5 separate regions of the Homo sapiens genome follow, and all the other regions are linked to region 3. Evidence: fine-mapped expression QTL. A gene starts in region 3. Each other region holds a variant in brackets. All regions are shown on one strand. Distances are from middle to middle.

Region 1 (5,109 bases), 50 kb before region 3:
TGGTTTTTATTTTCAGTTCTCTGAGACTCCACTTGCTTTCACTCTGGCTCCTGTTCCTCCTACTTCAGGTAACCATTGCATAATCTAACCCGTAGTCCATCTGTCTGCTTAACTAGCACCCAAACCTGGCCTTCCATAAAAGGGAGTAAGATAAAACTTTCATAAAACTGCCCAATACAGGCAACACTGTCATGCAGGAAATGCTACTGTAATATTTTATGGAAATAGACTTCATTAAGATGCTCAATAACTGCATTACATCCAATTTAGAATTGGTGGTAGTTGTCACGTTTTTGTTTTTGTTTTTGTGTTTGTTTTTGTTTTTGTTTTTGAGACAGGGTCTCTTTCTCTCACCCAGGCTGGAGTACAGTAGTACAAACATAGCTAATTGTAGCCTTGACGTCCTGGGCTCAAGTGATCCTCCTGCCTCAGCCTCCTGTGTAGCTGGGATTACAGGTGCATGCCACCATGTCTGGCTAATTTTTTAAATTTTTTTGTAGAGACAGGGTCTCACTTTGTTGCCCAGGCTGGTCTTGAACTCCTGAGCTCAAGAGATCCTCCCACCTCAGCCCTAAAGTGCTAGGATTACAGGTGTTAGCCACTGTGCCAGGCCATGTTTTTGTTGTGGAATGGTAATATTATTATGGATTTTATATGCTTTAAGGCTGTGTGAGCAGATGCACGCTTAGTTCAGATTTACGCCATATAACATGCATTATTGCAAAATAGTAGCTGAAGTTGGTAATTTTTTTCTTACTGGTCTTCAATGGGCCCATTTTTGGTGCAACCCTGGTCAGAGAATATATGGGAATGTTGTTTCGCATAGACTTGGGGTCATATGTAGTTTGCAAGGGAGAGTTTCTTATTTGTCTCTTACCCACCCCTCATTCCCGTGGTTGGTTTTCTTTCACCATTTTTATACACTACTTTCCTGACCATTACTTCCACCTCCTAAGTCTAGCGTGAGTACTTTTCATCTCTGCTACTGTGATAGGTTACCCTGAGTTGTTAACATGTAGCCAATAATAAATGATGACATTCCCGACATTTTCACAAGGAATAAAACAATGTATATAGGTGTACATGTCAATTTTTGATGTCCAAACTCATTTCATGCTTTTTCTAACCTTTATTTTTTGCCATTATTTCTAACATCTATTTCTGGGCAAAGTTTTCTAGATGAAAACTTCCTGATTTGTTGACATTTTCTGGTTGAATAACTGCCAGATTCTCATTTGGCCTTTATGCTTCATTCAGCTCCAAGTGGATAAACACTAACAAGGAAAGAAAACAGATATTCAGAACCAGCCTAACTAACATACGGGTTTTTTTTTTCCTACTCTGCCAATGTCACTAGTATTATTGCAGCTTCAATTAATAAATGTGGATTGTTGCAGCCAAAACACAATTATTATTTTTCCAGCAATTGTATTAAAACAGTATTAAAATGATTATTCAGGTACCCAACTCTTTAAGGACAGATGGGATTCTATATAACTGTCTGAAAAGCTAATTTGGCAAAATGATATTTGTTATTTTAATTACAGAATTGGAGAGGTATTACCATGGAAAACAAATTCTCCATTTGGCTGAGTCCAGAGCTTTCAAGAAGGAAAAGATTGCTATGGTGATCATTATTGTGGTTTGCTGGCTATCGTCAGATAATAGCATTCCAGATGAGCAAGGCACCTAGTGATCAGCAATTTTTGCCTTCGGTTTTTGAACATTTGGGCAGACCTTAGCAATGCCTTCTCTACTCCATGATCTGCTCTTTCATTATTTCTTTCTATTGCAGAATCCTGTTTTGCCTGAGTATGTCCAGGTTCTTCACAGAATTCTCCTACCTTTTATACTTTTTAAATGTTAAAAATTAAAAATATTAAAAAATAATAAATAAAATAAAATATGTTAATGGACCTGAACAGATAGGTGACTAATACATGTTGTATTCCTCCAGCAAATATCTTAACTTCAGATAATGTGTTAGCTCCCTATTTTGTCAATTTTGTAAGTGTGAAGTTTCATTTATTAAGTAATGAATGATATCTACTATGAGTAACATTTCATATATAATAAACCTCACTATTAATATAGAAAGTATGGATTATTAGCAACAGTATATTAATTAATACTCAATTAGCCTGGAGTCTCTCTGAGCCTACTCTGGCTCAGGATGCTGCCTGATAAAAAAAAAAAAAAGAAAGAAAAAACTTCAGCTAGAAGGACTGCAAATATTTTTTAATGTGAAGACCTGTTTTCATCTGAGATGTAAAAGGAAAAGACTGAAATTTTACTGGTTAGTATAATGATCATTGGAAAGTGACAATAATGCTTTCAAAATTATGATTAGATGAGAAATCAAAATGTTTTTAATGTTTTTAAAATAAGGGTTTTTTTTAGA[C/A]GGGCTCTCACTCTGTTGCCCAAGCTGAAGTGCAGTGGCATGATCATGGCTCACTGCAACCTCAACTTTCCGGGCTCAGGTGATCATCCTACCTCAGCCTCCCTAGTAGCTGGGGCTACAGGTATGTGCCATCACACCGGGCTAATTTTTGTGGGTTTTTTTGTTTTGTTTTGTTTTGTTTTTGAGACGGAGTCTCTCACTGTCACTCGGGCTGGAGTGCAATGGTGCGATCTCGGCTCACTACAACCTCTGCCTCCCAGGTTCAAGCAATTCTCCTTGCCTCAGCCTCCCAAGTAGCTGGGTTTACAGGCGTCCACCACCACGCCCAGCTAATTTTTTTGTATTTTTAGTAGAGACGGGGTTTCACTATGTTGGCCAGGCTGGTCTCGAACTCCTGACCTTGTGATCTGTCTGCCTCAGCCTCCCAAAGTGCTGGGATTACAGGTGTGAGCCACTGCACCCAGCCAATTTTTGTATTTTTTTTTTTAGATGGGGTTTTACCATGTTGGTTAGCCTGGTCTTGAACTCCTGGATTGAAGCAATCCTCCCACCTCACCCTCCCAAAGTGCTAGGATTACAGGTATGAGCCATCACACCTGGCCTAAAAATAAGTTCTTGAAGTTAAGCTACAATATGCAATTTGGATGGGAAGTTTCTTGAAATCTAATTTTTTTTTTTTTTTTTGAGACGGAGTCTGGCTCTGTCGCCCAGGCTGGAGTGCAGTGGCGCGATCTCGGCTCACCGCAAGCTCCACCTCCCAGGTTCACGCCATTCTCTGCCTCAGCCTCCTGAGTAGCTGGGACTAGGCGCCTGCCACCACACCCAGCTAATTTTTTGTATTTTTAGTAGAGACGGGGTTTCTCCGTGTTAGCCAGGACGGTCTTGATCTCCTGACCTCGTGATACACCCGCCTCGGCCTCCCAAAGTGCTGGGATTACAGGCGTGAGCCACCGCGCCCAGCCTTGAAATCTAATTTTAATTAATGTTTTGTCATCACTATATTTTGTGATCAAATGAAATAATTGATGTGGCCGGGCATAGTTACACACACGTGTAATCCCAGCTACAGTGAGGCTGAGTGAGCTATGATTGTGCCACTGAACTCCAGCCTGGGCAACAGAGCCAGACCTTGTCTCTAAAAATAATAATAATAATAATTGATTACTACTAATAAATATGTAACTGACAGTTTTTTGCTTCTTTAATAACTATATCATATTATCAGCTCTCACAAAGAACAATTACTTTCATTACATTGTTTTCTTTTCAAATGTCTTTATAAAACGGGTTCTCTAAAGCTATAAATGAATAAATAATTTTAAGCCAGGTCTTCTTTCTTAACTCAGGTATGTTCTTTTTAGAACTTCCTTTGAAGGGATGACAGGCCAAAAGATGGAAATGGGAAGCAATAGAGGGAAATCAAAATTTCACTGCTGCTATTTAACATTATTGTGAAGTCAATTCACCAACTTCAAAAGAACAGTGATAGGAACTGGCAAAAAAAAAAGAGATCAGACAGAATAAGTAAACAGAGGTTTGAATGAAAGACTGAGAAACTTGGATTTAATTCTACAAGTAAAAGGAAGTCAGTGAGAGTTTCTGACCAGAGAACTGACAAAATAAAAAAATTATTTTTGCAAAGATTAATCTGCAACTCTGTCATGAATAAACAGGAGTCAAGAGATGGAAAACAAAATTAATATAGGAATCTGATTATAGTTATTCTAGCCAGAGGTCCTGAACACCTGGAGTAAAGTGGTTATTATGCAGAAGGCAGATAGTATTTAAGGAATGTTATAAAGAAGGAATGGGCAAAGCTTTTGGACTGATTGATATGGGTAACAAATGATAGGGACAGATAAAAAGGACTCCCTGATTCTGGGCTTATTAGGGTAGCAAAGTCAACAAATATTTTTTATGTAAGGACATCTTTTTGAGAAATTCATAGCCACCTACAAGATCATAGTCGTAATTTAAAAATCCAATGATGGAGAAAAATATTTAACAAATAATTGCTATTAACTCAATAATGCTTTTAGATGAATATATATTTATAAATAACATCCGCTATATGTCTGTTCACACTGTGCACTGTTTGACTCTTCTGCATATTGACACTGATATAAATGTCAATTATAGCACAACCTAGAGTTGTGCAGTATACAACCTACCCTACTGTACACAGTAGTCATGGACTGTAGCATCTATATATCTCTGAAAACAGTTGAGCAAAACTTATGGAAACCCCACTTATTCAGTCCTCAGATATTATCTAGTTCAAGATGACTTCAGGGATGTTTTCTAAAGACTCTATAATTCACAAGGGACAGTCATCTATATATCAGATAACAATAAGAGGAGGAAAAACAAGAGGACTATATTGCTGTGAACAGTGATGGGAAAGTTCATAGAAAGAAGAGTTCTTCTTCCTTACAAAATCCCTGAGCCTCTCTGCTTTCTAAGATAAAGTAGGGGCTAAGAATGATCTACTCTACTATATTAGTTTCCTAGGGTTGCTGTAACATTACCACAAACCTTGTGGCTTAAAACAACATAAATTTATTTTCTTACAGTTTTGGAGGCTAGAATTCCAAAACCAAGGTGTCAACAGGCCATGTCTTTTCTGGAGGTTCTAGGGAAGAACCCTTGCTTGCCTCTCCCAGCTTCTGGTGACTTTCAGCAATCCATGGCATTCTTTGGCTTGTAGC
Region 2 (5,109 bases), 20 kb after region 3:
AGTCCCAGCTACTTGGGAGGCTGAGGCAGGAGAATGGCATGTACCCAGGAGGCAGAGCTTGCAGTGAGCCGAGATCGCACCACTGCACTCCAGCCTGGGCGACAGAGCAAGACTCTGTCTTAAAAACAAACAAACAAACAAACAAAAATAATAATAATAGGGCCACTATATTTTTTCTAAGGAACATTATTATGTCTTAGCATTTTATAATATATGAGTTCTATAACATTTAAAATAACTATATGCAAAAGAATTACATAAATGATATATAATTTTAAAATTTTAAGATAATTACATTTAAAAAATTTTTAAATGATATAAAAAAGTATATAATTTCAGATAACTAGTAAATGATTGTTGGAATTTTTTTTTCATATGGAAAAAAACAGGAATTGAACTTTTTTTTTGTGACCCAGAATAATTTTTTTTGAGATGCAAATTATTTATATATACTTACATGTATACATATATTGCATAATTTATATTTTTGACATTATAAAATATTTTCTGAACTTTAAGTTCTGTACTTTAAGTCCTGGGGTACATGTGCACAACGTACAGGTTTGTTACATAAGTATATATGTGCCATGTTGGTTTGCTGTACCCATCAACTCATCATTTACATTAGGTATTTCTCCTAATGCTATCCCTTCCCCTGTCCCCACCCCATGACAGGCCCCCGTGTGTGATGTTCCCTGCCCTGTGTCCAAGTGTTCTCATTGTTCAGTTCCCACCTATGAGTGAGAACTTGCGGTGTTTGGTTTTCTGTCCTTGTGATAGTTTGCTCAGAATGATGGTTTCCAGCTTCATCCATATCCCTGCAAAGGGCATGAACTCATCCTCTTTTATGGCTGCATAGTAATCCATGGTGTATATGTGCCACATTTTCTTAATCTAGTCTATCATTGGTGGACATTTGGGTTCGTTCCCAGTCTTTGCTATTGTGAATAGTGCCGCAATAAACATACATGTGCATGTGTCTTTATAGTAGCATAATTTATAGTCCTTTGGGTATATACCCAGTAATGGGATTGCTGGGTCAAATGATATTTCTAGTTCTAGATCCTTGAGGAATCGCCACACTGTTTTCCACAATGGTTGAACTAGTTTACAGTCCCACCAACAGTGTAAAAGCATTCTTATTTCTCCACATCCTCTCCAGCATCTGTTATTTCCTGACTTTTTAATGATCGCCATTCTAACTGGTGTGAGATGGTATCTCATTGTGGCATTGATTTGCGTTTCTCTGATGACTAGTGATGATGAGCATTTTTTCATGTGTCTGTTGGCTGCATAAATGTCTTCTTTTGAGAAGTGTCTGTTCATATCCTTTGCCCACTTTTTGATGGGGTTGTTTGTTTTTTTCTTGTAAATTTGTTTAAGTTCTTTGTAGATTCTGGATATTAGCCCTTTGTCAGATGGGTAGATTGCAAAAATTTTCTCCCATTCTGTAGGTTGCCTGTTCACTCTGATGGTAGTTTCTTTTGCTTTGCTGAAGCTCTTTAGTTTAATTAGATCCCATTTGTCAATTTTGGCTTTTGTTGCCATTGCTTTTGGTGTTTTAGTCATGAAGTCCTTGCCCATGCCTATGTCCTGAATGGTATTGTCTCGGTTTTCTTCTAGAGTTTTTATGGTTTTAGGTCTAACATTTAAGTCTTTAATCCATCTTGAATTAATTTTTGTATAAGGTGTAAGGAAGGGATCCAGTTTCAGCTTTCTACATATGGCTAGCCAGTTTTCCCAGCACCGTTTATTAAATAGGGAATCCTTTCCCCATTTCTTGTTTTTCTGAGGTTTGTCAAAGATCAGATGGTTGTAGATGTGTGGTGTTATTTCTGAGGCCTCTGTTCTGTTCCATTGGTCTATATCTCTGTTTTGGTACCAGTACCATGCTGTTTTGGTTACTGTAGCCTTGTAGTATAGTTTGAAGTCAGGTAGCATGATGCCTCCAGCTTTGTTCTTTTTGCATAGGATTGTCTTGGCAATGTGGGCTCTTTTTTGGTTTTATATGAACTTGAAAGTAGTTTTTTCCAATTCTGTGAAGAAAGTCATTGGTAGCTTGATGGGGGGATGGCATTGAATCTATAAATTACTTTGGGCAGTATGGCCATTTTCATGATATTGATTTGTCCTATCCATGAGCATAGAATGTTCTTCCATTTTTTTGTGTCCTCTTTTATTTTGTTGAGCAGCGGTTTGTAGTTCTCCTTGAAGAGGTCGTTCACATCCCTTGTAAGTTGGATTCCTAGGTATTTTATTCTCTTTGAAGCAATTGTGAATGGGAGTTCACTCATGATTTGGCTGTTTGTCTGTTATTGGTGTATAGGAATGCTTGTGATTTTTGCACATTGATTTTGTATCCTGAGACTTTGCTGAAGTTGCTTACCAGCTTAAGGAGATTTTGGGCTGAGATGATGGGGTTTTCTAAATATACAATCATGTCATCTGCAAACAGGGACAATTTGACTTCCTCTTTTCCTAATTGAATACCCTTTATTTCTTTCTCTTGCCTGACTGCCCTGGCGAGAACTTCCAACACTATGCTGAATAGGAGTGGTGAGAGAGGGCATCCCTGTCTTCTGCCATTTTTGAAAGGGAATGCTTCCAGTTTTTGCCCATTCAGTATGATATTGGCCGTGGCTTTGTCATAAATAGCTCTTATTATTTTGAGATACTTTCCATCAATACCTAGTTTATTGAGAGTTTTTAGCATGAAGGGCTGTTGAATTTTGTCAATGGCCTTTTCTGCATCTATTGAATTAATCATGTGGTTTTTGTCATTGGTTCTGTTTATGTGATGAATTACATTTATTGATTTGC[G/A]TGTGTTGAACCAGCCTTGCATCCCAGGGATGAAGCCAAGTTGATCGTGGTAGGTAAGCTTTTTGATGTGCTGCTGGATTCGGTTTGCCAGTATTTTATTGAAGATGTTTGCATCGATGTTCATCAGGGATATTAGTCTAAAATTCTCTTTTTTTGTTGTGTCTCTGTCAGGCTTTGGTATCAGGATGATGCTGGCCTCATAAAATGAGTTAGGGAGGATTCCCTCTTTTTCTATTGATTGGAATAGTTTCAGAAGGAATGGTACCAGCTCCTCTTTGTACCTCTGGTAGAATTCGGCTGTGAATCCGTCTGTCCCTGGACTTTTTTTGGTTGGTAGGCTATTAATTATTGCCTCAATTTCAGAACCTGTTATTGGTCTATTCAGAGATTCAGCTCCTTCCTTGTTTAGTCTTGGGAGGGTGTATGTGTCCAGGAATTTATCCATTTCTTCTAGATTTTCTAGTTTATTTGCGTAGAGGTGTTTATAGTATTCTCTGATGGTAGTTTATATTTCTGTGGGATCGGTGGTGATATCCTCTTTATCATTTTTTAATGTGTCTATTTGATTCTGCTCTCTTTTCTTCTTTATTAGTCTTGCTAGCGGTCTATCAATTTTGTTGATCTTTTCAAAAAACCAGCTCCTGGATTCATTGATTTTTTTTTTTTTTTTGAAGGGTTTTTTATGTCTCTATCTCCTTCGGTTCTGCTCTGATCTTAGTTATCTCTTGCCTTCTGCTAGCTTTTGAATTTGTTTGCTCTTGCTTCTCTAGTTCTTTTAATTGTGATGTTAGAATGTCTATTTTAGATCTTTCCTGCTTTCCCTTGTGGGCATTTAGTGCTATACATTTCCCTCTACACACTGCTTTAAATGTGTCCCAGAGATTCTGGTGTGTTGTGTATTTGTTCTCATTGGTTTCAAAGAACATCTTTATTTCTGCCGTCACTTTGTTATTTACCTAGTAGTCATTCAGGAGCGGGTTGTTCAGTTTCCATGTAGTTGTGTGGTTTTGAGTGAGTTTCTTAATCCTGAGTTCTAATTTGATTGCACTGTGGTCTGAGAGACAGTTTGTTATGATTTTTGTTCTAGGAATTGAACGTTAAAAAAAAATTGCCTTTAAAACGGTGAGAAACACATACCATCAAAGTTTTTTTGACAAGAAATTCATCAGATTTTAAAAACAATTTTTTAACTTTTCTGAAAATTGAAGATTCTTCAAGTAACTTCATGAAAGATGAAACTGATCATTACAAAATGCAAAACTTACATTGATGTAGTTGTGTTTCAGAGAAATAAAAATGTTGATTTGTTTTTAATATTATAAGCTACATTTGGTCTCCAAAATACAGTTAGAGCAAAGAAAAAATAGTATGAGCTGATGATTTTCCTTTAGTTGCAGAAATGCATTTCTGGGGATGGTGATGTGGTGGTAAGCTCTAATAAAAACTGTCCAGTGTGTCATATTTCTGGCTTTTATGTGTTGCATACAAAGCACCATCAGTCAAATGAGCAACACAAGACTACCATATTAGGCATTATAAACAGTGACAAAGTATAAGTAGTGCAAGTAGTCATATTTCTAGTTTTGAAATGCTTAAACTCTAGTAGATAAAGAATAATAGAAAATGAGCGATAAAAAAGGACATAATTTAGATTGTCAAGAGAAAACACAGACCCCTAAGAATTTAATTAAGAGGACAGATTATATTTACTTTTTCAGCCCCTAATACAGCTTCTTGGACATATATAAGTGTTCATTACTTAAAATGATCTGGAACTTTTTCTAGAATTTATTATTTATTCAGTTAAACACTTATTGAAAGCTAAAGTGTGTATTCAGCATTGTACTACCCTTGAGATACTGTGGCAGACTGCTTCCTGGTACATTTCATTGTGATTTTTTTTTTTTTTTTTTTGTTAGTCACTAATTCAGATACATAGACAGTTGTTACCTAGTACAACTAGCTAACGTGTTTGGATTATAAATTCATTTTGGAAGAGCTTACATCTATATAAAGGAAGGTACAGACAGTCCTTTGCACAGTTCTGATTAGCACAATATCTGTGTAACTTTCATGTAACTGAGCAAAGTTCAGCTACCTATACAGAAGGAAGAGCCTGTACTTGCAGACACACGTATATCTGGATTTACCCAACTTTGGCACTTATTCTGGGCAAGTTATTCAGCTTCTGAATTAGCTTTCTCATCTATTACAGTCAGATAATAATATCTATTTCACAAGGGAGTTGGAAATAGTACATAAAGTGATATCCATATAATTTTTAAAAAT
Region 3 (5,109 bases):
GTTGGCCAGGCTGATCTCCAGCTCCTGACTTAAGTGATCTGCCCTCCTGAGCCTCCCAAAGTGTTAGGATTACAGGCGTGAGCCACTGTGCCTGGCCCTGGCTAATTTTTTGTATTTTTAGTTAGAGATGGGGTTTCGTCATGTTGGCCAGGCTGGCCCTATTCATATGTAGAAGTCCTAACCCTTAGTCCCTTAGAATGTGACCTGATTTGGAAATAGGGTCATTGCAGATATAATTAACGTCCATGAGGTCATACTGGAGGATGGTTCGCCCCTAATCCGTTATGACTGCTGTTCTTATTAAAAAGGGAAATTTGAACACACAAGCACACTGGGAGAACAGCCATGTTCAGATTGGAGTTACGCTACCATATGCCAAGAAACTACCAGAAGCTAGGAGAGGCATGGACGAGATCCCTCCCCAGTGCCCTCAGAGGGAGTACAGCCCTGCCTACACCTTGATTTCAAACTTCTGGCCTCCAGAATTGTGAGATAATAATTTGTTGTTTTAAGTCACCCAATTTGTGGTATGTTACGGCAGCCCTAGGGAACTAATGTAGTGCGATTATTTTAAGAGGCAAACAAGAAGAACATCCTAAGAGTGAGGTGCCTGATAGTCTCATGCATCAGAAAAGTCCCATATATTTGACTTCAGCAGTTAAATTGTATTTTCCTGTTTTACCAAACCTTTTTAATTATCGTTTCTTGCTGTAGAAAAATCACATAAAATCTGCTCTTTGCTTAACAAATTACAGGGTCGCTTCTGATTTGTGTGCTCGAAATACTAGTCACCAAGCAGAAACTGATGACTGTGAGAATAGGCGACTAATTAACAAACAAACAAAAAAAGCCCTTTCTCAACATTGGATTGACCGAGTGAAAGTTGACAGGGGAAAGACACCTCGATTCAGCCATCTTTCTCCAACAGGTTGTACTGCTGACTGCACAGTGTCCCCTGAAGGACTCCGGTCGCTGTAGCCTTGGAGAGCGACCAGATTCCTCACCCCACTCAGGAGGAGCCAGGGCAAGATTAGGGTGCAGAGAAATCGGTTTCCTCCAGCCTCCTACCCCAGGGAAGAGGACCGAAGCCAGCCCCGGCCTCACGTGCATGCCCAGTCGGGAGGACGCCCTCAGTGGGAGAGCCCTGCTCAGGTTCTCCCCGAGGCCGAGGTGGTGGTGGGAGCGGGCGGTGGCCCCGGGATCAAAGGACCTCCGCCGGGTTAGCTTTGGCAGTGCCGCAGCCAACCCAGCAGGACGCTTATTTTCAAGCCTGGGGAACGTAGTTCCTCCCGCTTTCACAGCAGGATGGAGCCCGACGGCACCCCGGTTAAAGGGCCTTTCCAGAGCCCTCCGGGGAACGGAAGGCCGCGCTCCTCCGGGAGGGAGAACGACACACTCTTCGAGGAAATCCTGGGGCGGGCGCTCTCCTCGCTGCCGGGACCTTTGTTTCTAAGCTGGCCACAGCTAGAGCAGCCTTAAGTGTCCCAATGACACGCCTGCTATCGAGCGCCCTCCCGGCGGCCCCTCCTCAGCCAGCTGCCCAGCGGGCGTCCTCAGGTGTCCCCAAGAGGCGCAGGCCTAGTCGCCTACACGTCCTTTCCAACTTCGTCAGCTCTGGCTTCCCACCACCCCTCCCGGCTCTGCGGCGGCCCAGCCTCTTCTCCGGTTAATTCCGGCCTGTGCGGCCCGGTCGTCCCGTAAAGAAGGCAAGCCCGGGTTCCGGGTGAGGGGTTGGTGGGTCAGGGTGGGAAAGCAAGGCAGCGGTGAGTCCTCTGCTAGCAGATCGGGCTCAATATCCCCATTCCCTGTTTTCTCCGGGCCCGCCCTCCGCCTCTCAGGCGGCCGCCATGAAGATCCTCTGCCGCGGCTGCAGCCGGTCTGCAAACACACGCCCACCCGCACGCTTAGCCTCGCTCGCCACAGAGGGAGGGGTGGAAAAGGCACTGAGCATGCTCGGTGGGGAGGGCGGGGCGCTCGTGGGCTGCGAGTCGGGGCCGGAGCTCTTCAGGCCGGCTCCCGCGCCTCCGCCGCCCGCCCGCTCGGAGCCGCGCCCGCCGCAGGCTGCGCCCGCCAGTCCCGCCCCGCCCCGCCCCGCCCCGCCCCCCGCCGCTCGTCCCCGCCGCGGCCGCGCCGCCTGCAGCAGCACCAGCTGCTCCTCCCCGGCGGCCGCCCCCCGCGGGTCCCTCCCTGGCTGCGGGAGAGACGGAGGTAGAGGGAGGACACAGAGCCGCGCCGCCCGCACCACAGACCTTCGCCTCGCCCCGCCGGTTCCTCACCCTCGGGGAGCAACATGGGTAAGTCATCCTTCCTCCGCCGTCATCGCCTGACATTTTTTTCTTTCTCGGCGTGCTGCAGGGTGGGAAGCATTTCTCGCGCAAAGTTGCCGGATTTCTCCAGTCCCCGGGTGTGAGACGGTGGCTGTTCCTCCGGGGAGAGTCGGCGCACGCGGAACGCACGCCGGGTGCCGGGGCTGGGAGGGTCCCGAGCGCGGGCTGGGGTGGGGTCGGCCGCGGGCCGGACCGCCGCCCGGCTCCCCGGCACCTCGCAGCCTCGCCTCCCCTCCTCCATTCTTCCTGCCGGTGCCCGGGCACCACGGAGCCTGCCTCGCGGGCTCGCATCTGCAGCTCCATCCCCGTTTCTCCAGAGGCCGCCCGCTTCCTTTTCCCCCGCGTGTACTGAGCTCGAGGCTCGGGTCCGACCACTACCACTTCGTGTAACTTCCTTCTCTGTCAGTGCGACCTTTCCCCGTCGTGGAGACTCCTCATCCCGGGCGGGGAAGTGGAAGCAAGTAGTTTGTGAGGGAGATCTTACAACCTGCACGGAAATTATTTTCCAAGGGGGAGAGCGGACAGCCTCATAGGTTGAAAGGATGACTTGTCAGAGGCCACGAGGAACGTGAGGCAGGATAGAGCCGCTAGCTGTTGAATTAGTGCTGGGTGACTACAGTGTGCAATATTCCCGTGCCCAGCCTATTTTCTGGATTCCTTCGTCCGTCTTCTGTAGCAGGAAACTGCGCCCTGTAACGTTGTTACCGAACTTACATGGTAGTTATTCTTTCCCAGCTTCCTCCTGTCTAATCTGCATAATCTGATTTTAGTTCCTTTGTATTTATAGTTAATCTGAAGAGATTGGTTTGGATGAGAGATTTAAGAGCAAATATGTTTTATAAAACGATATATACATTTGACCTAATTTTTTTACATCATCTATTGCTTAACTGTTACATTCAGTAATCACAGAAACGTCTGATGAATGCTGTCATGTAATTAAGAGCTCAAAGTTTCTTTTAATAGTAGCGACTTGTACTAAGTTCCCCAGTTTGCTTCCACTCCTGTCTGTCATAATTTCCTCTTTTTAAAATTTGCTCCCTTGGCATCTGTCAGCTGGGACTTTTCCCACCCCTTCTGTGCGAGTTATTTAAAGCTTGAGATGAATGTGGTCCTTTCATCTGTTAATACAGTGCTCAACACGTTCAGAGTTAGGTGGTGCAACTCAGAATCTTCAAGAAGTATCTAAACCTGGGAATGGTGTCCATAGAGTTTTCTGGAACAGCAAATGCTTCAGGCTTTGATCCCGACCTTTGGCCATATATCTGGAAGAGGCCAGGGTTGACGGAGGAGGTGGTATGAATCAAAAAAGGTCTAGGGCTCTGAATTTTATTTTCAGTTGTTTTTTCTTTTTAACGTGAGTACTCGATATGCTGAACAAATTTCTGTAAAAATTGGGTGGCCCATTTATGCGTGTCTGCCTTTCTCTTAAAGTAGATTTTTAAATAGGTATTATATCAGATTATTGGACAAGCTGTATATTTCCGTCGAACATACACACGTTTATGTGTGTTCCCTTTGAACATACACAGATAAAATACACTTTGAAATAAAATTCCTTTGAACATACATACACAGATAAGTGTGTGTATGTTCAAAGGAAATATACAGTATGTCCAATAACCCTATCTGATATTGGACTGTAAGTTCAAGTTTGGCTTGCAAAATATATTTTCCCATGTTTCCAGGTGAGCCTTAAACAATCCATTTAACATTTTAGCTTACATGTTAAATCCGTACTTTTTCAGTGGAAAAAATCCAATTCCGTTACAACACTGGTGAATAAAAATACCTAAAAGAAATTATCTACTTAAAAATAATCTTCAAAATCTTGAGTGCTATTGCTTGATTTTTAAAAAGGGCCAAATAGAAACCTATCTCTCATTTTGAAGCCATCTCTGATACTCTTTGGTTAATCTGTCTCTTCATAAGCACTGTTTGTACCTTGTTAGAAGCTTTTTAGCACTTACGTAATCTACCATATAATAAAGTTGTTTATGTGTGTGCTGTGCATTTAATCATGAGTCCCAGAAGATGAAAAGTGTCTTATTATTTTTTGTGTTCCCCACAGTGCTTTTCAAATAGAAATTCAGTAAATCTTTGGCAAATTGTTGAACTTAAAGCCACCTATTATTTTCAACTTTTGAACCTGAAGATATAGTCTTCATCTGAACAAACATTTGGGTTGGTACATATTATCTAGTTGGGGGATAAGCAGAAACAGAAAGGTATAATTGTACCATGCCTCCCAGTACACTGTAGGTTGGTTTTGAGTCAACCTCAGGCAATCTGTTTCCTTCTAAACTCTCTTCAATGGTAAGGCAGTTTCATGTATGATCAGTAGGTACATATGATAATTTAAAATTGAAACCTTGGGGAACAGTTTTATATCTGGGCCAAGGAAGTTAGTATAACAATTCATGTACACATAAGAAGGTAGAAGGTATACTGGTTAATGATGAGGGGAGGGAGAAGTGCTTTTTAATTTGTCTCAAGAAATAAATAAGGTTGATTTTTAAAGATAGTCTCAGCCGGGCGCGCACTTTGGGAGGCCGAGGCGGGCGGATCACCTGAGGTCAGGAGTTGGAGACCAGCCTGACTAACATGGTAAAACCCTGTCTCTACTAAAAATACAAAAAAACAATTAGCCGGGTGTGGTGGCGGGCGCCTGTAATCCCAGCTGTTTGGGAGGCTGAGGCAGGAGAATCACTTGAACCCGGGAGGCGGAGTTTGCAGTGAGCCGAGATCATGCCATTGCACTCCAGCCTGGGCAACAAGAGGG
Region 4 (5,109 bases), 750 kb before region 3:
CTACTCCCCAGCCCCAGAGGTCCTGTGGCCAAAAGTCCCTATCTTCTAACCATGTGGTTAGTCTGTGTCATGACCTGTCCCCATGTTGAAGCTATATAGGAGCCCACTATGAGTCACCTTATTTCTATCATTCAGGAAATTCCAGAGGTTTGTGAAGGAACCTGGAACAAAGACCAGGCAAATTCTTTATTATGCCATAGTAACCAATACAGCAAATACATCCATAAGGGTATAGGAAATCCAAACAAAATAATTTATGAAATAGGCATGACTGAAATATTGAGAATACTGAATTGGTCTATTTAAAAAAAGATACACACTATTTTCAGGTGTACATGGAACATTCACCAGAGTTTACCATATATTGGTTCATGACAGATAATGGACACATGACACATCTATGGCACATTTCATACTACAAAAATTATTCAAAATATGGTTATTCACTATCTTTGAATATAGAAATCAATCAATAAAAAATAACTAGACTCTTTTCCTCAAATGTTTTGAAATTAAGCAATACATTTCAATATATGTACAGGTAAAAAAATCAGAATGCAAATTAGATAACATTTTGGATTGAATGAGAATAAAAATGCAACATACCATATCAACAAATATTAATTATTAATTCAGTATTACTGTGTTATTCAAAATAGTTTATTATTCACCATTTCATTAACTTAATAAAAAGTATGTTTAGAATTATAACGACATAATGATGTTATCAAAATAAGTAGAATTTGTTTGAACAAAAAATAATTTTTATTAATTATAGCATGAAAATACAAAATATAAATCCACGATTATGAACTAAAATTTACCTATTAAAAATAATCAGCACAGAAAATATACTTTAATAGTGCTTTATACTAGAGGGCCAAAGTATTCTGATTATCTGTAGAGAAGCAAACACTCTAACTACCCATCTCTTGCATCATAAAAATTCTTCCCTTTGCTACACTGTTTTCATTGTCTTTTTAAAATCTGCATAATGTTCTTCTGAGTGAATTAACTGTAATTAATTAACCATTTTCCTATTTTCCTATTGTTGTGTATTTGAGTTCTTTAATGTGTTACCAATGTACTCAGAGCTAAATTCCTGCTCTACAGCATCGCCTTCACTGTTAGGCCCAATCTGGCCCCTACATATTTCTATGGGCTTATGTCTCTCCAGGGTTTCGATTTTGAACCTGGTCCGTTTCTGTCTTTGCACTCCTGACAGTCTGTAGCTCCTTCCCAAAGGTGGAAAAGAATTTGACTTTTTTTTTTTCCCCAGAATTCTTAAGAGGTCAGTGTGGAAACTTCAGATGGAAATTTATATAATACAGCAAGTTTCCATTCAAGGTTTCAAGATAAAACTTTATTCATTGTTATGAGCTTTAGACACCCAATTTATAAAAATGACAACTGACGTTCTAAATTTCAATTAGGTTCACAAAAATCTTACAAGAAATTGTAATAATGTCTTGCCTTAACATAAACCATAAAGAACAGTGAAGTTTCATTAGCACATTGTTCAGAGAATCATAGAGAAGTTACAAATGAGAAAGAAAAGTGTGATAAAGAATAGCTTAATGAGGATTTGTGGTATACAATATACAAAAATCTAAAAACAAAGCCTTTTTTTAGGTGTTAACACTAGAAAGTTACTCACGGAAATTGATTTTAAATAAAGACAAATATGCACTTTTAATATTATGGAATATAAGGGAAAACAAAAAATACTGACAAGGCTTTCTCTATTTTTGCCACACTTCAAAGAGATGAAAAGAGGCAGCCACTTTGAAGGGGAAAAATAGTGGTTTGTGCTTCAGAATTACAGATAACATCTCATAATAAGGTAATCCGGGTAAAAATGTTATTCAATTGATTATTAGAATTAATTTTCAAAAATTTAAGAACATTGAAACCTTATCAATGACTTTACATATACCATTAAGTGCCTAGTAAGAACAGAACACTCTACTAAGCACCCCCACCAACCCTCCCACCCCTAATCC[G/A]TGGAAAAATTGTCTTCCACGAAACTGACACCTGGTGCCAAAAGATTGGGGACCACTGCTCTAGGCTATAGAGTTTCTAGAGCCGGTATCCCCAGGATTATGTCTGTGATATGTAGAAGGCGAAGTCTACATGTAAATGAATCAATGATTTGAAATTATCTACACACTAGCACACAGATTATTAGAGAATTTAGAATCTGTGTTCCACAGTTTTACTCCTTTGATATGATATGAAGAAGGGTTAACATTACCAGGGTAAGTTGATACATTCTTGTCAGGCTCAATATTGCATCTTTGGCCCTAAATTATATATTGATATGGAGAAAGTGTTTATAGCAAATCATTACAACAAACCATTTTAATTTTTTCTAGCAACAACTGATAAGGGCTTGCATTAGGACAGTAGAAGGAAAAGGAAGTAAAAGTGTGGAACATAAGATTCTAAATTATCTAATAATCTGTGTGGTAGTGTGTAGATAACTGCAAATCATTGATTCATTCACATGTACACTTTACCTTCTATACATCACAGATATAATGCTGGGGTTACTGAACCTAAAACTCTATAGTCTTGAGCAGCAGCCCCCTATCTTTTTGGCACCAGGGACCAGTTTCATGGAAGACAATTTTTCCATGGACTGGGGGTGGGAGAGATGGTTTCAGGATGAAACTGTTCCACCTTGATCATCAGGTATTAGTTAGATTCTCACAAGGAGCACACAACCTAGATCCCTCACATGTGCAGTTCACAATAGGGTTTGTGCCCCTGTATGTTGAAATCTTAAGTATAAACACTAAAAAGGAATACAGGGAAGAATCGATAATATATAGCAATATATAATTAAAGCTGCTGGGCACAGTGGCTCACGCCGGTAATCCCAGTTACTCAGGAGGCTGGGGCGGGAGGATAGCTTGAGCCCAGGAGTTTGAGGCTGTACATCGCTGTGATAATGCCACTGCACTATAGCTTGGGCAACAGAGCAAACTCCCATCTCTAATAATAATAATAGCTAACAAAGGAGAAAAACTGGAATAAAAATATTCAATTAATCCAAAAGAAAGAGAAAAGGGAGGAGTGAAAATGCCAAAGTACATGGAAGAAATAGAAAATGTATAGTAAGATTTAAACACAACTATTTTAGTAATTATGTAAATTCAAAAAGTACTAAAAACTATAATCAAAACAGAGACACTATCAGAATAGGTTTAAAAAGTAAGACCAAAGTACATGCTATTTACAAGAAACATGCTTAAATTATGAAGACACAGAAAAGTGAAAGTAAAAGAACAGAAAAAACTGTACTACAAAATACTAATTAAAATCAAGAGGAATGGTTATGTTAATATCTGATTAAGAAGAATTTATGGTGAAAAAAACTAAAGATAAAAAGCAAGATAATTCATAAGGATACAATAATAATTTCAATAAGAAAGTAAAACAATCCTGAGTTTCTTTGTAACTTATAATAAGTTCCAAAATATATAAAGAAAATTTTAACAGAGGAGTAAGAAGAAATCCATATATTTGCAGTCATAGTAGGAGATTTTAGTATACCTCTCTCAGTAACTGGTAGAATAAACAGAAATAAACAACAACAAAAAAACAGTAACACTTTTGAAGATTTAAACATGATTAACCAACTTTATTTAATTGGTATATATAAAACATCGTTATGCACAATACCTGCAGAATAAAAATTATTTTCAAGCATGTCAAGCATTTATCAAAATGTATTACTTGAGGATCGCTTACCATACATAGATAATAACAAACAAAATAAAAATATATAGAAAACAGAGCAATTATGTAATTAACATAATTAATTTCCTACATAAAAAAAAATGTTTGTGAGCTGGTACGATTTTGCAAGAAAAAAAGGAAGAAAAAAAATTCCTAGTGTAGAGAGATACCTGTGAAAAGCATGCCATATTTGGAGAGCTGCAAGTTCCTTAAAGAGCAGCTGTTACATGTGGAAGGTGGTGAGAGATGAGGCTGGAGGGATAGGTAGTGACTTTACTAGGAAAGGACCTGCATGCTTTGCTGTTTTTTCAACTTTTTTTTCTTATAATCTTGAAATTGTATAAGGAAAATGTAAGAAGTTAACAAGTCATATAAGAAAATTGGACTTGCACTTTGAAAGTTTCAAAATGGCAACAGTTTGAACATTGAATTAGAAGTGTGTAAAACCACAGGTAGTGAGCCCATATAACAGGCCATTATAAAAATCTAGGTGAAAAATAAGGAGATGATAAACTAGAGGATATAAGAATGGTCATATAAAAGATGACACATAGTAAAATTAAAGAACTACCAGGACTACATGATTGGCATCAATAACTAAGATAGGAAAGGTAGGCAATGAGCAAATGAGAGGGTAATTGTGAGAAGCGTTCACTTCAGTTTGGAGCATGCTGTCTTTAAGGTGCCTATGAAATCCCTGACTGTAAATGTTTAGCATGGAATGCATATGTAGCTTGGAAGCACTTGGGAAAGATGTGGTCTGGATCAACAGATTTGGGATATCATAGTAGCTAAAGCTAGGATTGTGTTTGAAGTATGTGAGTGTTAATGAAAAGAAACTGAGAAGAAGGGAGAACAGAGGAGAGAAGAGGAAAGGGAGGGAAAAGAGGAAAATGAATGGAAGAGAAGGGAAAGCAAAAATAAAGAAAAGATAGGGGTGGGAGGAAGAAGAAGGAAGGGGGACGAAAGAGTATCTTCATGGTTTAAAAATATTAGTAATAGCTATCACTTATTGAGGGCTTAGCGTACACCAGACAGTAAAATAATCCTGTGATACAGGAAAATCTAAAATCTTTTTTTCATACTATACTCTCACAATACAGAATAATTCTGTGACTACAGATGTGTGGAGCTTCCCCACAACACACACACCTCATACAATTCTGCAGATGATTCTGCAGCAGACACCAGCTGGATGTCTTCTAGTTCAATTCAATTCTGACACTATCTACCTGGAGAGCATGTCAGATTCCACAGGTTAAGGGCTTAGTCCCACAAGACTGCCCCTACTTCAGATGCTGGTTGCAAGAACAGATTGTGGCCTGTGCTTCTTATTGACTAGCTATCAATTAGGGTTTCCATGAC
Region 5 (5,109 bases), 76 kb before region 3:
TTCTACTTCTCATCTTCATTTATATATTGAATTAGCCATATATTTATTATATCTAAAACCCATAATTTTCCTCCTTAAGCCACCAGCTTCACCCATACTCTGCTCCATCTCAGTTTTAGCCAGTCCATTATTTTTGTTGCTCAGACTAAAAACAGTAGACAGGTTCCTAATTCCTCTATATTTTTCATATATCACATGCAATTTATCAGCAAATCCTAGTGGATATACCTTCAAAATGTATCCAGAATCTGACCACTTCTCCTCATCTCCTTTCCTACCACTATGGTCCAAGACACTGTCATGTACTAGGATGTTATTGCAATGGTGTCCAAGGCTCCCTCTGGTTCTATCTTTAGTCCTTGTAGCATAAACTTATAGGCCTCCAACCAATTTGTTTCTCTTTTTTTCTTTTTTAATTTTTTTCTTTTTTTTTTTTTGAGGCAGAATCTCATTCTGTCACCCAGGCTGGAGTGCGGTGGTGCGATCTTGCCTCACTGCAACCTCCTCCTCCCAAGTTTAAGCTATTCTCCTACCTCAGCCTCCTGAGTAGCTGGGACTACAGGCACGTGCCACCATGCCCAGCTAATTTTGTGTATTTTTAGTAGAGGCAGGGTTTCACCATGTTAGCCAAGATGATCTCGATCTCCTGTCCTTGTGATCTGCCCGCCTCGGCCTCCCAAAGTGCTGGGATTACAGGTGTGAGCTACCACACCCGGCCCTTTTTTTTTTTTTTCTTAAAAAAAACTTAGGCTGTACACATGGTCATCACCTCTTCCCCCATTAGGGACTGTATTTTCAGTCTCACTTGAAGCAAGTTGTGGCTATATGATTAAGAAGGATGGGATGTGAGCAGAGGTGAAGTGTGCAACTTTTGGTTCATCTCTAATGTAAAAAACAAGCCATTTGTCCTAGAAATTCTCTCTTCCTCTTTTCTGCAAGATGTCATGATCCTGTGAACACAAGCAAGATAAAAACATGATTGAAAGGATAGGGAACAACAAAACATGTAATCTGGTCCCTGACTGACCACATGGAACAGAACCACACTACCAACATCCCAAGAAGTAAACCTTATTCAAGCCTCTGTAATTTGGCAGGTCTCTTTGTTTCAGCATAACTACTGCCATGACCCCAATACACTCCTCTGTATTTATTCTCAAAACAGTAGTTTATATGATTCTAGTTGAATCATGTTAGTTGAATCATGTTATTTCTCTATGCAAAATTCTTGAATGACCATTCAGCTTATTCAGAATAAAAGCCAAGGTCTTAACTAGGTCCCAGGCAATCTTGTCCTCCCAGGTCTGTTTGGCCAGTTTCTGTTCATATTCTCCCATTCCGCTGTAGCCATAGGGGTCTGTTTGGCACTCTTTGAAGGTGCCAGGCACTCTCCCATCCCATCACAGCTCCTTTGCAGTTGCCGTTCTCTCTGCCGGAAACTCTCTTTGTCTAGAAATCCACAAAGATAACTCCCTTACCAACTCTGAGTTTTTCCTCAAACATTATTTTCTCAGTGGACCTTCCCTGACCAACCAACACTTGCACACTCCATGTCTTTCCTGTCTTCCTGTTCTCTGTAGCCCCTATTGCTTTCTAATATATACTATAACTTACTTATGATATAATTTATTTATGTAATATTACTTTCCCTTCAAAAGTAAGCTGTATGAAGGCAAAATAATTGATTATGTTTACTGATAATGTTTCTGACACATGGAAAATGAATAATAAATGTTTTCTGAATAAACATGTCAATAGGAATGCTTTTGTCTACAAATAAAAAAAATTAACAGAAGCTTAAAGCATATAAATACACTTATTGTTTTTTGTTTTTGTTTTTGTTTGAGACAGAGCTTCACTCTTGTTGCCCAGACTGGAGTGCAATGGCTCGATCTTGGCTCACCACAACCTCTGACTCCCGGGTTCAAGCGGTTCTCCTGCCTCAGCCTCCCGAGTAGCTGAGATTACAGGCATGGGCCACCATGCTGGGCTAATTTTGTATTTTTAGTAGAAACGGGGTTTCTTCATGTTGGTCAGGCTGGTCTTGAACTCCCAACCTCAGGTGATCTGCCCACCTTGGCCTCCCAAAGTTCTGGGATTACAGGCATGAGCCACTGCGCCTGCCCCACTTATTGTTTATGTTACAAGAAAACCTGGTTAGTGTCACAGATTGTCTACATTAGGTCATCACTACAGTGCCAATAATATTTCTCTTTATTTTCACAAGATGGCTGCTGTAGCTCCAAACAGTACGTCTTCATACAATACAACCTCAAGAAATTGAAGGAGGGAAAAAAAATGCTCTCACATGTCTTTTTTCAGGATGGTAAATCTTTCCCAGATGTCTTCCAGTAGACTTCCTCTTAGGTCTCATTGACCAGAGTGGCATTACACTGTCATTTCTAGACAAATTACTGGCAAGAGAGAA[A/T]GGATAGCTATAATTTTTATATACACCAATCAAGATTTATCCCAGGGGCTGAACAAAATGCTATCTAAACAAAATTAGAATTCTGTTAACATAAATGTAGGAGACATGGTTGTTGGGTTGGCAGCCAAGAGTCTGCCTGAATGACATACAAATGAATATTGTTTATTGCAAAATTATAATTATATAATAAGGTTACCTTTTATAATAGGAATTATTTGAAGGTTATCTTTTAATGTTTAATGTAATTAAATAGGAAAAAGCACTCCAGAATGATAGTGTATCAGTTAAGATTGCTTTTAATTGCATGTAACAGAAACCAGATTAAAATTTAAATGCTTAATCAGAAAGGTTTTTTTCCTTATAACAAGAATTTCCACTGTAGGCAGTTCAGGACTGATCAAAGGGCTTCATGATGCCATGAGGGACTCAGGCTTCATTATGCCAGACTGCATGCAATTTTTGTCTTTTGGGCCAAAAAAAAATGACTGCACTCCTAGCATATTTGCACACTATGTAGACAAGAGGTGGTTGCTAGGCAAGTCAGCCGCCTTCCCAATAGCGCGTACTCAGTGATTCCTGCTTGCATCTCCTTGGCCAGAACTGGTTCTCAGGGCCATTGCTTGTCTGGGGAGGTAAGTATTTTAGCTAGATCCAAACAAAAATTTGGATCTGTTATTAAGAAATAAGAAGAGAATGGATATTTGATAGGCAAGTAGTGTCTACAATTTATGTTTACCAAATATATTAACTGTGACTACCATTGAGTGGTGAAATTATAAGTGATTCTTGTATCTTATTATATTGCCTGAGTTGTTTTCAAAATGTATGTTCTTTTTTAAAAAAAATTTGGAAATAAGCATAATAAAGCTATTTCGATTTGGCAGGGGAAAGTAGAAAGTTTAGAGATTTTTTCCTATAGACTGCACCAAAATATTCCTGACCTTAAAATGTCTGCTCCAAATGATCATGTCAAAATATTCTTACCAAATATATAACTTTGGACATATACTCTCAGAGCCTCAGTTAACTTGTCAATAAAATAAGGACATTATAACTACTCCCAAAGTTATTGTAAAGTTTAAATGAGATAATGTATATAAAATATTTAGCACAAATGCTCACTATATGGTAGCTTTTATTAATAGTACTTAAGATCGAGTGTAGTGGCTTACAGTACTACCCGCACTTTAAGAAGCCGAGGTGGCAGGATCACTTGAGCTCAGGAGTTTGCGACCAGCCGAGGCAACATACTGGGACTTCATCTCCACTAAAAATAAAAAAAAAATTAGCCAGGTGTAGTGGCACATACCTGTAGTCCTAGCTACTCAGGAGGCTGAGGTGGGAGAATCACTTGAGCCCAGGAGGTCAAGATGGCAGTGACCTGTAATCGCACCACTGCACTCCAGCCTGGACGACAGAGCAAGACCCTGTCTCACTAAATAAATAAATAAATACATAAATACATAAATAAATAGTACTTAGATACATGGTAGTTGTAAAATAGTCTTTAAATTAACTATATGTTTTATTGACTTTACTTAGCTATATCTGTTATATTAGCTCATCTTTGAGTATTTACTATGTAACAGAAACTGCTAAATATCTTACTTATATTGTCATGTAAACCTCAAAATAATCTATGAAATAGATAAATTATTATCTGTATTATGCAAATGGAAAAAAAAAACTATGGCTTAGGGAGGTTAAGCAAATTGTTCAAGATTATATAAGGCAAAATGTGGCAAAGCTTAAATTTAGAGCTAGGCAGTTTGACACAAATTTTTCATTCTTAACCAATCTCCTACAACATGAATCTGAAAGTCCTCTATTTTAACATCATGAAAAATCATTAGCCTGCTTATAAATCAATTCGTCTAAGAAATTACTTTGGCTATTTTAATTTGCAAGTCTAGCAGAAAGAACTGTAGAATCAGCCGAAACACATCCAGAAATTCAAACCTTGTCATTGCAGCTTTTATTAATGATGGCACCCCGGTTAATAGTTCTGCTTTAAACAATTTTTATAAATTCTCAAATAGTATGGATTCATACATTTTATAAAAATATATACAAATGCAAAATTTTCAAGTTAATTCATTTACTAATTACAATTTGGCTAAATCAGTCTAGAAAACTAACAATGCTATGAAAAAAGTCAAGTAATCCATAACAAAAGAGCAATATAAATAGACACTCTTTCTCAGTTATTGTACTGGAATAACTAGTTGTATTAACTGCTTGCATGACTTCATTCTTAAGTATAAAATTAATAAAATGAGAGAAGAATAAAAAATAATGAGGTTTTAGTTTAAAAAATACTAATTGAAATCATTAGACAAATGATTTATAAGTTATCTTAGCTGAATCTAAAAGAAATATATTTCTCAGCAAAATACAATTCAGACAATTTTATAGCAAGTATCTCTCTAAGGTTACTGCAATTTACCAACACAAATAAATTGAGTTCTGTAAAAGTTAATGACTGTCTGATACTTCCTGCTGGCTAGAAGAAAAGGCAGAATACAGGAGCAAATATATTACAAAAAATGATTTTTAAAAAATGCTTATGAGGTACAGCGGTATGCAGAAGAGTGAAAGATTATGTGCAGGAGTCAATCAGAAAAGCTTTACATAGGATATAGCAGAATACATCTCTGAAAGATAAATAGAACTTTTTCAGA

Which allele goes with the higher level. Alleles are on the strand shown, and positions count from the first base shown. SD is a standard deviation of normalised expression in the study named. Not every link is listed here.
In carriers of allele A in region 2, the expression in monocytes of the gene that starts at base 2,109 in region 3 tends to be higher than with G alone (moderate effect, 0.46 SD a copy in CEDAR).

What was found. PIP is the estimated chance that this variant, and not a neighbour inherited with it, causes the effect.
Region 1: its variant is the best candidate, but not a certain one, in a credible set for the expression of RAP1GDS1 in whole blood (TOPMed, PIP 0.63).
Region 2: its variant is the best candidate, but not a certain one, in a credible set for the expression of RAP1GDS1 in monocytes (CEDAR, PIP 0.54).
Region 4: its variant is the best candidate, but not a certain one, in a credible set for the expression of RAP1GDS1 in whole blood (INTERVAL, PIP 0.55).
Region 5: its variant is the best candidate, but not a certain one, in a credible set for the expression of RAP1GDS1 in T cells (TOPMed, PIP 0.68).

The regions. Positions count from the first base shown.
Region 1 is chr4:98,209,222-98,214,330 of GRCh38, forward strand. No RefSeq gene overlaps it. Among named protein-coding and RNA genes, the nearest start is that of RAP1GDS1, 50 kb to the right of the region's middle. The variant C/A (reference allele first, on the strand shown) is at 2,402.
Region 2 is chr4:98,279,103-98,284,211 of GRCh38, forward strand. All of the region lies in intron 1 of RAP1GDS1 (Rap1 GTPase-GDP dissociation stimulator 1), which reads left to right. Among named protein-coding and RNA genes, the nearest start is that of RAP1GDS1, 20 kb to the left of the region's middle. The variant G/A (reference allele first, on the strand shown) is at 2,821.
Region 3 is chr4:98,259,276-98,264,384 of GRCh38, forward strand. RAP1GDS1 (Rap1 GTPase-GDP dissociation stimulator 1) reads left to right here and starts at 2,109. Exons shown (of 15, transcript NM_001100427.2): 1 at 2,109-2,294. The coding sequence starts at 2,291. RefSeq lists enhancers at 1,350-1,649, 1,401-1,963 and silencers at 1,930-2,229, 2,330-2,399.
Region 4 is chr4:97,507,970-97,513,078 of GRCh38, forward strand. It overlaps a transcript of STPG2 not described here. Among named protein-coding and RNA genes, the nearest start is that of STPG2-AS1, 140 kb to the left of the region's middle. The variant G/A (reference allele first, on the strand shown) is at 2,004.
Region 5 is chr4:98,182,823-98,187,931 of GRCh38, forward strand. It overlaps LOC105377340 (a long non-coding RNA gene), which reads right to left. Exons shown (of 4, transcript XR_001741771.2): 2 at 3,601-3,695; 3 at 2,309-2,414. Among named protein-coding and RNA genes, the nearest start is that of STPG2, 42 kb to the left of the region's middle. The variant A/T (reference allele first, on the strand shown) is at 2,429.